Linked DNA regions of Homo sapiens. The protein of the gene in region 4 purifies or fractionates together with the protein of the main gene of each other region. This does not show direct contact. Each region holds a gene or a part of one and is shown on either strand. Other genes may lie near its edges.

What was found. The genes of interacting proteins can lie anywhere in the genome.
Region 1: the proteins of NAMPT (region 4) and NDRG1 fractionate together in Homo sapiens (co-fractionation; one large-scale study listed by BioGRID). This does not show direct contact.
Region 2: the proteins of NAMPT (region 4) and TPD52L2 fractionate together in Homo sapiens (co-fractionation; one large-scale study listed by BioGRID). This does not show direct contact.
Region 3: the proteins of NAMPT (region 4) and NCAPD3 purify together in Homo sapiens (co-immunoprecipitation; one large-scale study listed by IntAct). This does not show direct contact.

Annotation. Positions count from the first base shown.
Region 1 is NC_000008.11:133,287,253-133,290,752, reverse strand, and holds part of NDRG1 (protein NDRG1), read left to right. Parts: intron 1-3,500. UniProt on the Homo sapiens protein: Stress-responsive protein involved in hormone responses, cell growth, and differentiation. Acts as a tumor suppressor in many cell types. Necessary but not sufficient for p53/TP53-mediated caspase activation and apoptosis.
Region 2 is NC_000020.11:63,875,270-63,878,769, forward strand, and holds part of TPD52L2 (tumor protein D54), read left to right. Parts: intron 1-546; coding exon 547-606; intron 607-3,500.
Region 3 is NC_000011.10:134,157,968-134,161,467, reverse strand, and holds part of NCAPD3 (condensin-2 complex subunit D3), read left to right. Parts: intron 1-1,393; coding exon 1,394-1,576; intron 1,577-2,972; coding exon 2,973-3,139; intron 3,140-3,400; coding exon 3,401-3,500.
Region 4 is NC_000007.14:106,247,798-106,250,890, reverse strand, and holds the end of NAMPT (nicotinamide phosphoribosyltransferase precursor), read left to right. Parts: 3' UTR 1-2,593; downstream 2,594-3,093.

The DNA.
Region 1 (3,500 bases), on a different chromosome or scaffold from region 4:
TTCAAGATGCTGGTTTTGCCAAAAGCTCAAGCCTGCTCATGATGGCTCAGTGGTGACTGCAGGGTGGAGGAGAGGCATGTGACTGTCCCAGCTGACCTCCACACGCTGAAAGCCTCATGGTCACGTGCAGCCCACCTTACAACGTTGTATCTGGGCCACGGGTGGTGGTGAGGACTGTGGATATATTTAGGGCAATGTGAGATCATTGTCAACATTCCCTTTAAGGTTGCTTTAACCTTAAAGCAGCCAGCTTGATGCTTGCTGACTTGGGGCACACATCTTAACCTCTTGATGCCTCAGTTTCCCCGTCTGTTAAATGGTGACATGCTGGCACCTCCCTCCTAGGGTTTCTGTGAGGCTTAAAGGAAGTACCGGGTTTAGAGTCCAGTTAGTGCCACAGATACTGTTCCTGGTGCTGTTTTTGTGGTGTGTCTGTGTAGGGTTACATTGTTGCCTTCCTGTGGCTGCTCTTCCTGGTGGGCGGAACCTGGAACTTCTAGAACAGATCATGGATGTTTCTCTGCTGGATACCCCTTCAGCCTCACCCTGTGGGAGTTGTGGCGGGGCCCAGGAGAGTTTGCTCAAGAGGGTGTGCAGGTGGGTGGCAGAGCTGGAGCAAGGCACTAGTCTTAACAGACAGGAGTCTGAGGCTGGCAGAAGTGGGGGCCTTGGTCCAAGGTGCGGGGCTAATCTGGCCAGAGCTGAGCCTGGCAGGGCCTTGGTAAGACCCTGTGGCCCTTTTGTCTTGGTGAAGCACCTTCCTGCCTGGGTTTCCATTTGCCTGTAAGTTTGTTGTGGACAGCGTGATCTCCATAGACGTACACTGTGCCTACTTTACAGATGGAGAAACCAAGGCCCAGAGAGGAAGTGACTTGCTCAGAGTCATGGAATAGGAAAGTGGCAGGGTCCCCATGCCCTGATTCCTAGGCCAGCGTTCCTGCTGCCCCACTGAGGTTTTTGGGAATCACAGGCTCTGTGTGTCCCCCTCAGTCCCCCAGGGGCTGTTGAACAGTTCTCAAGTGGTGTCGGATTACTGAAGATGCCTCTGCCCACTGCCCTCCCAGGTCCCAGGGTCACGGGTCACGTTCTTTTCTTCCTCGGGCAGATCCTGGCCTTGGCTTTGCCTGGCACCTGTGATCCAGCTCTCCTCTGACTCTCCTGGGTCTGCTGGACTGGAAGGGTATTTGTGTAGCCCCTCTTGGGCCCTCATTACTCATTGACAGACAGTGCTGGTGGAGAGAAGGGCCCCAGTGGTGACGCACTGGGCCTGATAATCAGAAACCTTGGTGGCATTTGCTGAGCATTTTCCATGTGTCCCTCTCCTCGCTGGGACTCTAGGACTGAAACCCAGGCCACATCCTCACAGATGTCCTGGCATCTCCAAGGCAACCCTGAAAGGAAAGTATGTTGATGAATTAAGCAACTGTTTGCTTAATTCTCCATGCCATTCTTGAATTTAAGCCCCACTGCTGATCATTGGGAGCAGGAGTTAGCATGCCCATTGACAGACAAGCAAACTGAGGCAAAGAGGTTAGATAGCCAGGCATGGTGGCATATGCCTGTAATCTCAGCTACTCAGGAGGCCGGAGTAGGAGGATCACTTGAACCCAGGAGTTTGAGACCAGTCTGGGCAACATAGCAAGACCCTGTCTCTCTAAAAAACAAGATGAATAATACATTTTTAAAAAGAGATTCGATAAATTATGCAGGATCACAGAGCTAATAAATGGTGACACCATGGCCTGCAAGCCTTCCCCCAGCTCCTGGCTACCTTTCGCTTCTCTGGCATTGGTCTTCTCGGAATTCCTCCCAGGCAGGTGGATGGGAAAAGAAGTGAAGATACAGGCTGGCAGCTGGTGCTGTGACCTGGAGCCCTGTTTTTGGTGCTAAGCTGGGTTTTAGCTGAAGGAGACCTGCTGGAGGGGTTTCTTCTGTGCTTCTTGGGGAGCAAAGATGGCCTTGGAGATGGAGACACGGTTTGTCAGTCCCAAGCCACTCCAAAGGTGGGGCTGGTGGGCTAGGAGTCAGCCCTGGTTCCCCCGCCATGCTGTGTGTGGCCCTGCCTTGCCACCCCACCTGCTGGAGGACCTCTTTGATGCTTTCTAGTGGGTCCCAACATTCTGTGATTAGGACTTTGCATGAGGCAGAGGGAGGGCAGGAGCTGGAGTCCAGCAAGGACCTCAAGCCCAGGGACAGGCTCCACCTGCCACACTTGCTAAGCCGTGAGGGCCTCAGGTGCCCGGGAGGAGGGAGCAGGAGTGGAAGCACCAGCTCGAGCCGCCAAACCAGGTCACGTATCACCTGCCATTTCCTGCTGGCAGAAGGAGATCACAGACACCAGAAGACAGCAGCTTCTGCCAGAACTGGGTCCTTCCATGATTCTCAGGTGGTGACTTTGAATCCCAGAAAAAGTGTTTTGGGGAGAGTGGAGTGAAGGAAGAGTGTGAACATTGGATCTGACTCCACTCCAGCCCCTGTGCTGCAGCCAGCAGGGTGAGCTCAGGACAGCTGGCAGCCGCTTGGGCCCAGCCCCCTCCTCCGTGAATGAAGGTGGTGGGGAGTGCACGTGTGCGTGTGAGTGCGTGTGAGTATAAATGACTGTGGATGTGAGAGTCCATGAAAGTGAGAATGTATCAGTGTGTAAGAAAGTGTGAGTATGTGAGAATGAGTGTGTTTGTGAGAATGTATGTATGTGTGAGTATAAGTGTGTGAATGTGAGAATGTCTGAGTGTGAGAATGAAAGTTTGCAAGTGTGTCAGTGTGAGGGAATGTGTGAGTGCATTTGAGAGTGTGTGTGTGTGTGTGTGCGTGTGTGCACGCATGCACTAGATTAAATAAGAATGCATCCAACTGACATTTTCTGGATACTGTTACCTACTAGGAATTACTAAAATCAGCTATTCCAGAGGAGGGTGGATGTCGCACCAGGGGACATTTGGCAACGTTTGCAGATTCTTTTGCTGGTCGCAGCGTGGGGTGTATGCTGTGGGCATGTGGTGGGCAGAGGCCAGGGATGCTGCTGAGCCTCCTCCCGTGCTCAGGGCAGCCCCTAAGGCAGAGGCTGCTTGTGGGGCCCAAATGTCAGCAGTGCTGAGCTGAGGATCTCTGTCCAGGAGGCACAGACGCTGTCCTGGATGCTGTCCAGACAGCATCTGCTCTGCCCTCCAGGGGGACAGACAGACAGTGGACACAGCCCAGATGCAGCCTGATGAGTGAGCCCAAGGGAGTGCCTGTCCCCTCGGGACTGTGAGCTCCGTGGGGGCAGGAACTGGGTCTGTTTGCTCATGATCCCCAGATGAGTCCCATAGCCAGTCTCATCACCATAGCTGGTGTTATTTTTGTTCTGAGCTCTGTGTTGGGCACATAGAACCTAGTGGGTAGAAACCTCTGAATAAATCCTGAGTTTTCCATCCTGCTTCCGTGAACTCAGATGTTCTTTGAGGGCCAGCCTGGTGGCGTGGGGGCTGGGAGTGGGCAGATTGTAGGGAGCCAAGTCCTGG
Region 2 (3,500 bases), on a different chromosome or scaffold from region 4:
ACCTGTCCCAGATGTCGCTCAGCTCTGAATTTGGGGAGTGCTGCTTTCTCACTTGGCCCTGTCCACGTGGCTTCTCTGAAACATACCCTTCAAGGTTGGGGTGGCTGTGGAATGTTTCCCAGAAGACATGTTCCTATACAAAGACAGAACAGGTCACATTTCATAAATCTCACATATGAGAGGCCCATGTTTTTGTCCTAGGACATCGTAAGTTTTGAATCCCAAGGGTGTTTTGGAGCTGTGGGCTGTGCCCTTCCAGTCCCCCACAGCAGTGCTGTTGCCCAAGAATCTCCTAGCGAGAGACCAGGGGCTACTGCCAGGTGACAGAAAAGGGAACATCAGTTCCGCTATACCCACAGCTCACCTGGCGGCCTGGGGCCTGCACAGGGCCTGGTTGAGGCAGTGGACCCCATTTTTGGGCCGTCTGTGGAGTTGATGTTCCTGCCAGCTGGTCCCTCTCTGTCTTCCCTGGAACTTCACCTGCAGTTTGATGCCTGAGTTAAAATTGTTCTTCTAAATAATTCACTGTAGACTTTCTGTTTTTAGCTATGTGAAAACTTCTGAGAAACTTGGAGAGTGGAATGAGAAAGTGACCCAGTCAGACCTGTGAGTGCCTGTATCATCAGCACCTCCTCCTTCCTCCTCTCCGCCTCCTGACACTCAGTCGGGGAAGGGGGCTGTGCACACTTGGCACAAAGCTTGTTTTGGTATTTGCTGGCTATTTTTTCTTCCTATAACTTTTCTTCTCTCAGGTAAACTATCCTTTAAACTTTTGTGGAACAGGGAATAGTAGCTGAGAGAAACTCACTCAGCCACCTGACCACACTTAAAACTCCCCTCTGCCTGATATGCGTCCCTTATGTAAGAGGCCTGCACTGGTCCTGGCTGTATCTCTAACTAATAGAGCTCCTTGGCTTCCGGCAGTGCACAAGCTGGACAACACCACTTGGCCTGGGTTTGTTGGTGGCGAATTTTTGTTTGTTCTAACCCTAACCCTTTTCCCTGCTTAGCTCCAGCTGTTGGGTTCTCAGAATTCCTTTCCTCCTTTAGGGGTAGTTCTTGAGTGGAGGGCATGGTGTAGGATATGCTGGTGGAAATTTGAAATCCTCACGATCTGGGAGGCACTGCATTGTCAGAGCATCAGCCAGTGTGGATCAAGTGTGGATAGTTTTGTATGTGTGTGTCAGTGGTGTTGTTCAGAGTGACTCCTAATATTTGGAGATCCTTAAACTAGATAATAGCACTTCATTTACTTGTGCTCTGATCTGATTATAACGTCTTTAAACTGAGGAGGGGAATATTTTTAAATAGTCTCTGTGGGATTTTTTCATCTGTTATTTAGAAGGAAGCGCTGTAATCGTTGCCACAGAACATGGGCAGAAAGTCCTCCCATGTTGGTCTGAAAGGAAGCAGTTGCTGCCGAGCTTGTCTTGAAGGTCCTGGGGGACCAGGCTGGCACTGCGTGCACATGGAGCCTTTGCGTCTGGTGTCACGGTGGGAGGCTGGTGTCAGGAACCCCGGGCGGTTCTCGGCATGTTGCCCCGGGTATTCCAGGGACCCGGGTGGTTCGTGGGCATGGCTACAGCAGCCAGCTGTACATCTGGGTGCTCTGGGGACCCGGGCGGTTCACGGCATGTTGCCCTGGGTATTCCAGGGACCCGGGCGGTTTGTGGGCATGGCTACAGCAGCCAGCTGTACATCTGGGTGCTCTGGGGACCCGGGTGGTTCATGGCATGTTGCCCTGGGTTTTTTTTGTTTGTTTGGTTTTTTTTTTGAGACAACGTCTCGTTCTGTCTCCCAGGCTGGAGTGCAGTGGCGCCATCTGGGCTCACTGCAAGCTCCGCCTCCCGGGTTCACACCATTCTCCTGCCTCAGCCTCCCCAGTAGCTGGGACTACAGGCGCCCGCCACCACGCCCGGCTAATTTTTTCTATTTTTAGTAGAGACAGGATTTCACCATGTCAGCCAGGATGGTCTCAATCTCCTGACCTCGTGATCCGCCTGCCTCAGCCTCCCAAAGTGCTGGGACTACAGGCGCCCACCACCACGCCCGGCTAATTTTTTGTATTTTTAGTAGAGACAGGGTTTCATGGTGTTAGCCAGGATGGTTTCGATCTCCTGACCTCGTGATCCGCCCATCTCGGCCTCCCAAAGTGCTGGGATGACAGGCGTGACCCACTGCACCCGGCTTGAGCAGGGTGTTCTAGGGACCCTGGTGGGCTGTGTCTCGGGCTGTTGAACAGTGACTTTGCTGGGCAGCAGATGGTTCCTAGGTTGGGACAGTGACGGTCATCCTTGCAGTTTGGGCATCAGGCGGACGCACAGTGCAGACTCAGTCTGAAAATAGTCTTAGGAGACTTCAGTGCTGTTTTGTAAAACCAACTGACATAAAGCTGCCGGGATCCTATTTCAAATAAATAGTGTTTTAGAGAGCTTATTACAACACTCAGCGTCCCGACCCCTCTGGAGAAACCTGTGGCTCAGCATGGAAGCATATGGCCAGTGCATCACCTGGCCGAGGCCATTCCCCTGAGTTCTGTGGCGAGAGCTGTCAACTGACGGTTCCAGAGTGGAAGCGTTTCTGCCGGGAAGGCCCAGGCCGAGGGCGATGGTTTCTGCCGGGACGGCCCAGGCCGAGGGCGATGGTTTCTGGTGGGAAGGCCCAGGCCGAGGGCGATGGTTTCTGCCGGGACGGCCGAGGCCGAGGGCGGTGGTTTCTGCCGGGACGGCCCAGACGGAAGGGATGCGGCTTGGGAGGTGGGGCCTGAGGATGTGGCCATGGCGCGTGCTCTTCCTGGCTGGTGCCTCTCCTAGTCAGCTTCAGGAGATGGGCTGTAGATGTACCTCCACTGCCCAGAGCTCTGCAGGGGAAGGCAGTAAAAGCTCCCTGCATCCTGACCCACGTGTTTGTAGATCCTTTCAGCTATTGGCGCCCTGGAGGATGGACGGGAAGGAGAACGTGGCCGGTGGGTGGAGGATAGCACTGGTGCCTGGCCCCATGAGGCTGCAATGCGGCCACATTCTCAGTGGGTCATGTCTGAATGCGAGAGCAGCTGTGTTCTGCGAGTGGTGAAACAATTGCCTGTTGCATTCTATTTATAGGCAGAGGTAACTAAAAACCTCAGTGCTGAGAGGGGCATCATATAGATCCTGCAGTTATGAGCTGGTTCACTTGGAGTTGTTTTGGTTGCAGGTGACAGAAAGCACGACTCAAGGTAGCATCAACCAAACAGGGAGGTGGGAGCACTCACCAGGCAGAGAAGTCCCTGCCCCCACTGCTGCAGCCCAACAGTGTGGCCCCATATGGGTCTCCCTGGACTAATGGCTGCGGCCTTGGAGGTGGTGTGCTCTGGCCAGGCCTGGATCACTTGTCCATCCTGAGTGGGAGTGGGGGCAGCCCCCAGAGACAGACTCAGGAGAGGGGGAGTGCAAGGATGTCCCCCAGATGCCCTGTGCTGCCCAGGGGACAGCTCACTGGCAGTGGGACGAAACCGCTGTCTG
Region 3 (3,500 bases), on a different chromosome or scaffold from region 4:
ATGCTGCTTGGGGGTAAGGTGAAAGTGAGTCTTCGGGTTTGATTTCAGGGTGCTTACCTTTTGCACTGACTCAGATTCACAAGGTCAGGAAATAACTGCCCTGCAGGAGCTGCCTTCGGAGCTGCCATCACCAGGCTGAATTCTTTGTCAAGCAAGGGGACCATGAGGAGCTCAGTCGGAGCAAACCCAGGATGTGTTGACTTGCAGGGCGGACCTAAGTGGGGCCTCAGACCTTTCTTGCAAAATCTTTTACTAAGAAATAAATGCAACATAGTTTTTCTTTAATTCAGCAGTTATAGCTCTGTTCACATTATGTGTTTTTCTTCCTCAAAAAAATGCTACAATTTTTTTTCCAATAAAGGCCTCAACAAAAATTACATTGAATATAAATTTTCAAATAGCTTTTTATACTAGGAAGCCAAGGTAGGAAAGATAGTCTCATTGTATGATAAAAATAAAAACTTCCAAATATTCTTGTATTTATTGCCTGACTTTAGACCCTAGAAAGGAAAAAAAAAAACAAAAACAGAGCTTTGATCCTACATAGACTACTTAAACACTTAAGAAAAATAAGCCTTCCTCCTGCTTGTGAGCACACACACAGGATGGCCACACGTTGCTTGTTGTCAGTAGCTTGAGGGAGTCTCTTCATTGGCCTGTGGAACCCACTCCTAGTGGCAGCTGGAAAAGTGCATGGATTCCTTCTCTTTGTTGAGACTTCCCTCCCAGTTGGAACTGCAGTGTCTTTTTCTCCCTATTACTGTTAGGTGGAATGATTCTTTCTCTTAGCAAAGTGGTCTTGCCCCTGGCACCCCTCTTTAAGACCTAAGAATGTTTTTCCCTAGGTATGAGAAAAGGTTTTCTGTAAAATCTTCAGAAGAAGACACAAAGATGGGATTTGAGCCTTAGTTGGAATCCCCTGAGAGCCAATGGGGAGGCTAATGTAGACAGATGAGCAGCTTTTAGATCCATGCATCCTGGGACTTGCTCCAGAGGCTGTGTCTGAGCATGTCTTTCTCCCATTGGGAACCTGGGAGAGATTGCCCATTAACTGCCACATAGCCAGGATGCTTCCTAAGAGAGAGAACTGTTAGTTACTCACATATTTTTCTGCTTGTGTGGCCAGTGGTGTTTGCTCCAAATATACCATTGTACCTGTTAGTTACTGGAATGGAAATCATCTGCTTTCAGTAATGTCAGTCCTATTGTTCCTATGATTTATCAAGCAACATGACTTGGGGGGCTTTTTTCTTTCTTAACTTTTATTTTGCGTTCAGGGGTACACGTGCAGGATGTGCAGGTTTGTTACACAGGCGAAGGTGTGTCGTGGGGGTTTAGGGCTTTACGTTTTTATTCAAGAAAACATGAAAGGATGCTCCTGGCTCTGTTTCAGGAGGTGATGCAGGATTACCGAGATGAGCTCAAGGACTTCTTTGCAGTTGACAAACAGCTGGCATCAGAGCTTGAGTATGACATGAAGAAGTACCAGGAACAGCTGGTCCAGGAGCAGGAGCTAGCAAAACATGCAGATGTGGCCGGGACGGCTGGAGGTGCTGAGGTGGCACCTGTGGCACAGGTAGGTGTGGGGCCCACTGCACTGTGACCAGACAGTCCAGTCTGCTGTCTGCTACCAGTCTGTCGTTTGTCTGGCACCTCTCAAGATCTCCGTCATCAGAGGTTAGTCAGCCCGAAGGCCTCGAGAGTGCTGCTTGTTGGCCACTCCCTCGTGCCTTTCTGTCTGTGATGGATTTACTGTGCTCCAGACCTCCCTTCCATGAGGACGTGGTGCAGGAAGCGAGCTGGCAGCAGCAGTAGCTGGTGACTATAGATCCTAGGTCTGCCAGGGTGTGTCAGTGTGTCCGCATCTTCCCCCAGCACTCCCTCTTTAGAGCAGACCGGCACACGGCCATTTCTAGGAGTAGCTGTTGCTCACCGTCCTGAGGAATGCAGGCAGATCTCTTGTAGGAAAGACCAATGAGCACAAAGTAGCATACTCCTTTTTCTCTTCTGTCATGCCACAGCATCTACAAGTGGCAGCTTTCTCATAGTATTCTGTTTCTGAAAAGGAAATTCAACTTACCCAGGGTTGATATGGCTTCAAAGTACATTACTTATGGACTTGCTCATAGTACGTGAAGATTCTATTCCAATAAAGTGTTAAAATGGAGAAAGGGAATGGCTTGTACACTGTTGGTAGGGATGGAAAGTAGAACAGCCACTATGGAGAACAGTATAGAGGTTCCAAAAAACTAAAAGTAGAGGTACCATATGAGGCAGCAGCCTCGCTGCTGACTGTATAGTCAAAAGAAAGGAAATCAGGATGTCGAAGACATACCTGCACTCCCATGTTTATTGCAGCACTGTTCACAATAGCAAAATTTGGAAACAAATGTCCATCAGTGGATGAATGGTAAAGAAAATGGGGTGCATATACAGTGGAGTACTTTTCATCTATAAAAAGTGAAATCTTGTCATCTGTTGCAACATGGATGAACTTGGAAGACATTATATTAAGTGAAATAAGCCAAACACAGAAAGACAAAGATTGTATGTTCTCATTCATATATGTGAGCCAAAAAGGTTGATCTCACGGAGTTAGAGAGTGGATTTTTGGTGATTACCAGAGGCTGGGAAGGGGTGGGAGAAGGGGGATGAAGAGAAGTTGGTTAATGGGTACCAAAATACAGTTAGATAGAAGAAATAAGTTCTAGTATTCAGTACAGTGGAGATATTACAGTTTAACAATTTACTGTATATTTCAAAGTACATAGAAGAATTGGAATGTTCCCAACACAAAGAAAAGATACTCACGTTTGAGGTGATGGAGATGCCAATTACCCTGATTTGATCATTACGTTGTCCACATGTATCAAAATCTCATATGGACCCCCAACCATGTACAACTATCATATATCCGTTTTTGAAAACTTAAAAAGTATTAGAATGTACATACTCTTTATCTTCTCTACCAGGTTGCCCTGTGTTTAGAAACAGTGCCAGTTCCTGCTGGCCAAGAAAACCCTGCCATGTCACCTGCCGTGAGCCAGCCCTGCACACCCAGGGCAAGTGCTGGCCATGTAGCAGTATCATCTCCTACACCTGAAACAGGGCCATTGCAGAGGTTGCTGCCCAAAGCCAGGTAAAGAGCCCCTGGAGGCCACATCAGGGCTGGTTCTCTGTGGCGATGTTCTCAGAGGCGTCCCTGCCATTCCCAAGCGTGGGCAGGAAAGTCATTGTCATTGTCTGGCCTGCCACCCCGCTCCACACTGTGCCCTGGGAGGTTTGAATGAGGGTGGTGAGGGATGCGCCGGTGAGGAGGCACGCGGGGACACAGTGCAGCACTGTCACCTCTGCAGTGGTCTGCAGTGAGAAAGTCAGCGGCTGTGGCTGTTCTCCACAGGCCCATGTCCCTGAGCACCATTGCAATCCTGAATTCTGTCAAGAAAGCCGTGGAGTCAAAGAGCAGGCATCGGAGTCGGAGCTTAGGAGTGCTGCCTTTC
Region 4 (3,093 bases):
TGAGTGCTAAAGTAAGCTTTTTAGGGCCCTTTGCCAATAGGTAGTCATTCAATCTGGTATTGATCTTTTCACAAATAACAGAACTGAGAAACTTTTATATATAACTGATGATCACATAAAACAGATTTGCATAAAATTACCATGATTGCTTTATGTTTATATTTAACTTGTATTTTTGTACAAACAAGATTGTGTAAGATATATTTGAAGTTTCAGTGATTTAACAGTCTTTCCAACTTTTCATGATTTTTATGAGCACAGACTTTCAAGAAAATACTTGAAAATAAATTACATTGCCTTTTGTCCATTAATCAGCAAATAAAACATGGCCTTAACAAAGTTGTTTGTGTTATTGTACAATTTGAAAATTATGTCGGGACATACCCTATAGAATTACTAACCTTACTGCCCCTTGTAGAATATGTATTAATCATTCTACATTAAAGAAAATAATGGTTCTTACTGGAATGTCTAGGCACTGTACAGTTATTATATATCTTGGTTGTTGTATTGTACCAGTGAAATGCCAAATTTGAAAGGCCTGTACTGCAATTTTATATGTCAGAGATTGCCTGTGGCTCTAATATGCACCTCAAGATTTTAAGGAGATAATGTTTTTAGAGAGAATTTCTGCTTCCACTATAGAATATATACATAAATGTAAAATACTTACAAAAGTGGAAGTAGTGTATTTTAAAGTAATTACACTTCTGAATTTATTTTTCATATTCTATAGTTGGTATGACTTAAATGAATTACTGGAGTGGGTAGTGAGTGTACTTAAATGTTTCAATTCTGTTATATTTTTTATTAAGTTTTTAAAAAATTAAATTGGATATTAAATTGTATGGACATCATTTATTAATTTTAAACTGAATGCCCTCAATAAGTAATACTGAAGCACATTCTTAAATGAAGATAAATTATCTCCAATGAAAAGCATGACATGTGTTTCAATAGAAGAATCTTAAGTTGGCTAAATTCAAAGTGCTTGACATCAAAATGTTCTAGAGTGATTAGCTACTAGATTCTGAATCATACATCACATCTGACTAGAGACCAGTTTCTTTCGAATGATTCTTTTATGTATGTAGATCTGTTCTTCTGAGGCAGCGGTTGGCCAACTATAGCCCAAAGGCCAAATTTGGACTTCTTTTTATAAATGCAGATTGTCTATGGCTGCTTTCCCACTACTCCAGCCTAAGGTAAACAGCTGCAATAGAAGCCAAATGAGAATCGCAAAGCCCAAAATGTTTATTAACCTGCCCTTTACACAAAATTACACAAAAAGTTTCCTGATCTCTGTTCTAAGAAAAGGAGTGTGCCTTGCATTTAAAAGGAAATGTTGGTTTCTAGGGAAGGGAGGAGGCTAAATAATTGATACGGAATTTTCCTCTTTTGTCTTCTTTTTTCTCACTTAAGAATCCGATACTGGAAGACTGATTTAGAAAAGTTTTTAACATGACATTAAATGTGAAATTTTAAAAATTGAAAAGCCATAAATCATCTGTTTTAAATAGTTACATGAGAAAATGATCACTAGAATAACCTAATTAGAAGTGTTATCTTCATTAAATGTTTTTTGTAAGTGGTATTAGAAAGAATATGTTTTTCAGATGGTTCTTTAAACATGTAGTGAGAACAATAAGCATTATTCACTTTTAGTAAGTCTTCTGTAATCCATGATATAAAATAATTTTAAAATGATTTTTTAATGTATTTGAGTAAAGATGAGTAGTATTAAGAAAAACACACATTTCTTCACAAAATGTGCTAAGGGGCGTGTAAAGAATCAAAAGAAACTATTACCAATAATAGTTTTGATAATCACCCATAATTTTGTGTTTAAACATTGAAATTATAGTACAGACAGTATTCTCTGTGTTCTGTGAATTTCAGCAGCTTCAGAATAGAGTTTAATTTAGAAATTTGCAGTGAAAAAAGCTATCTCTTTGTTCACAACCATAAATCAGGAGATGGAGATTAATTCTATTGGCTCTTAGTCACTTGGAACTGATTAATTCTGACTTTCTGTCACTAAGCACTTGGTATTTGGCCATCTCCATTCTGAGCACCAAACGGTTAACACGAATGTCCACTAGAACTCTGCTGTGTGTCACCCTTAAATCAGTCTAAATCTTCCAGACAAAAGCAAATGGCATTTATGGATTTAAGTCATTAGATTTTCAACTGACATTAATTAATCCCTCTTGATTGATTATATCATCAAGTATTTATATCTTAAATAGGAGGTAGGATTTCTGTGTTAAGACTCTTATTTGTACCCTATAATTAAAGTAAAATGTTTTTTATGAGTATCCCTTGTTTTCCCTTCTTAAATTGTTATCAAACAATTTTTATAATGAAATCTATCTTGGAAAATTAGAAAGAAAAATGGCAAGGTATTTATTGTTCTGTTTGCCATAATTTAGAACTCACACTTAAGTATTTTGTAGTTTTACATTCCTTTTTAACCCATTCAGTGGAGAATGTCAGCTTTTCTCCCAAGTTGTATGTTAAGTCTATTCTAATATGTACTCAACATCAAGTTATAAACATGTAATAAACATGGAAATAAAGTTTAGCTCTATTAGTGAAGTGTTAAATTTGTGTGCTTCAAGTAATGCCATTTTCAGGCCTACCTGTTTTAAGTATTCCTCCAGTTCAAAGAATTAGAAGATGAGAGAAGGGCAAGTGTCAGAGTTGACTCCTTTTCTGCTTTGTGCAACTGTATAGATGACAGTGCCTTTTACTAAGGAAGAACACTGGAGGGACATCAGATTTGAGAGGAAAGAGCACGATTCCCGTGTTAAGGCTTGAGACGCCTTTGACATATCTAAATGTAGGTATTAAGTAGGCAGTTGATGATACAGGTTTGTGGACAGAAGGGCCTCAAGGTATGACTGATGTATACCTTGGAAGGTATACATCTTTGGAAGCACACAGTAAAGGATACTCTTCTAGGGATAGTATAGAGCAGGAGTTGGCAAACCCCACGCCATGAGCCAAATCCAGCCCACCATCTGTTTTTGTAAATAACTGTATTGGAACATAGCCACACCCATTTATTTAGTTACTGCCTTTGGCTGTTTT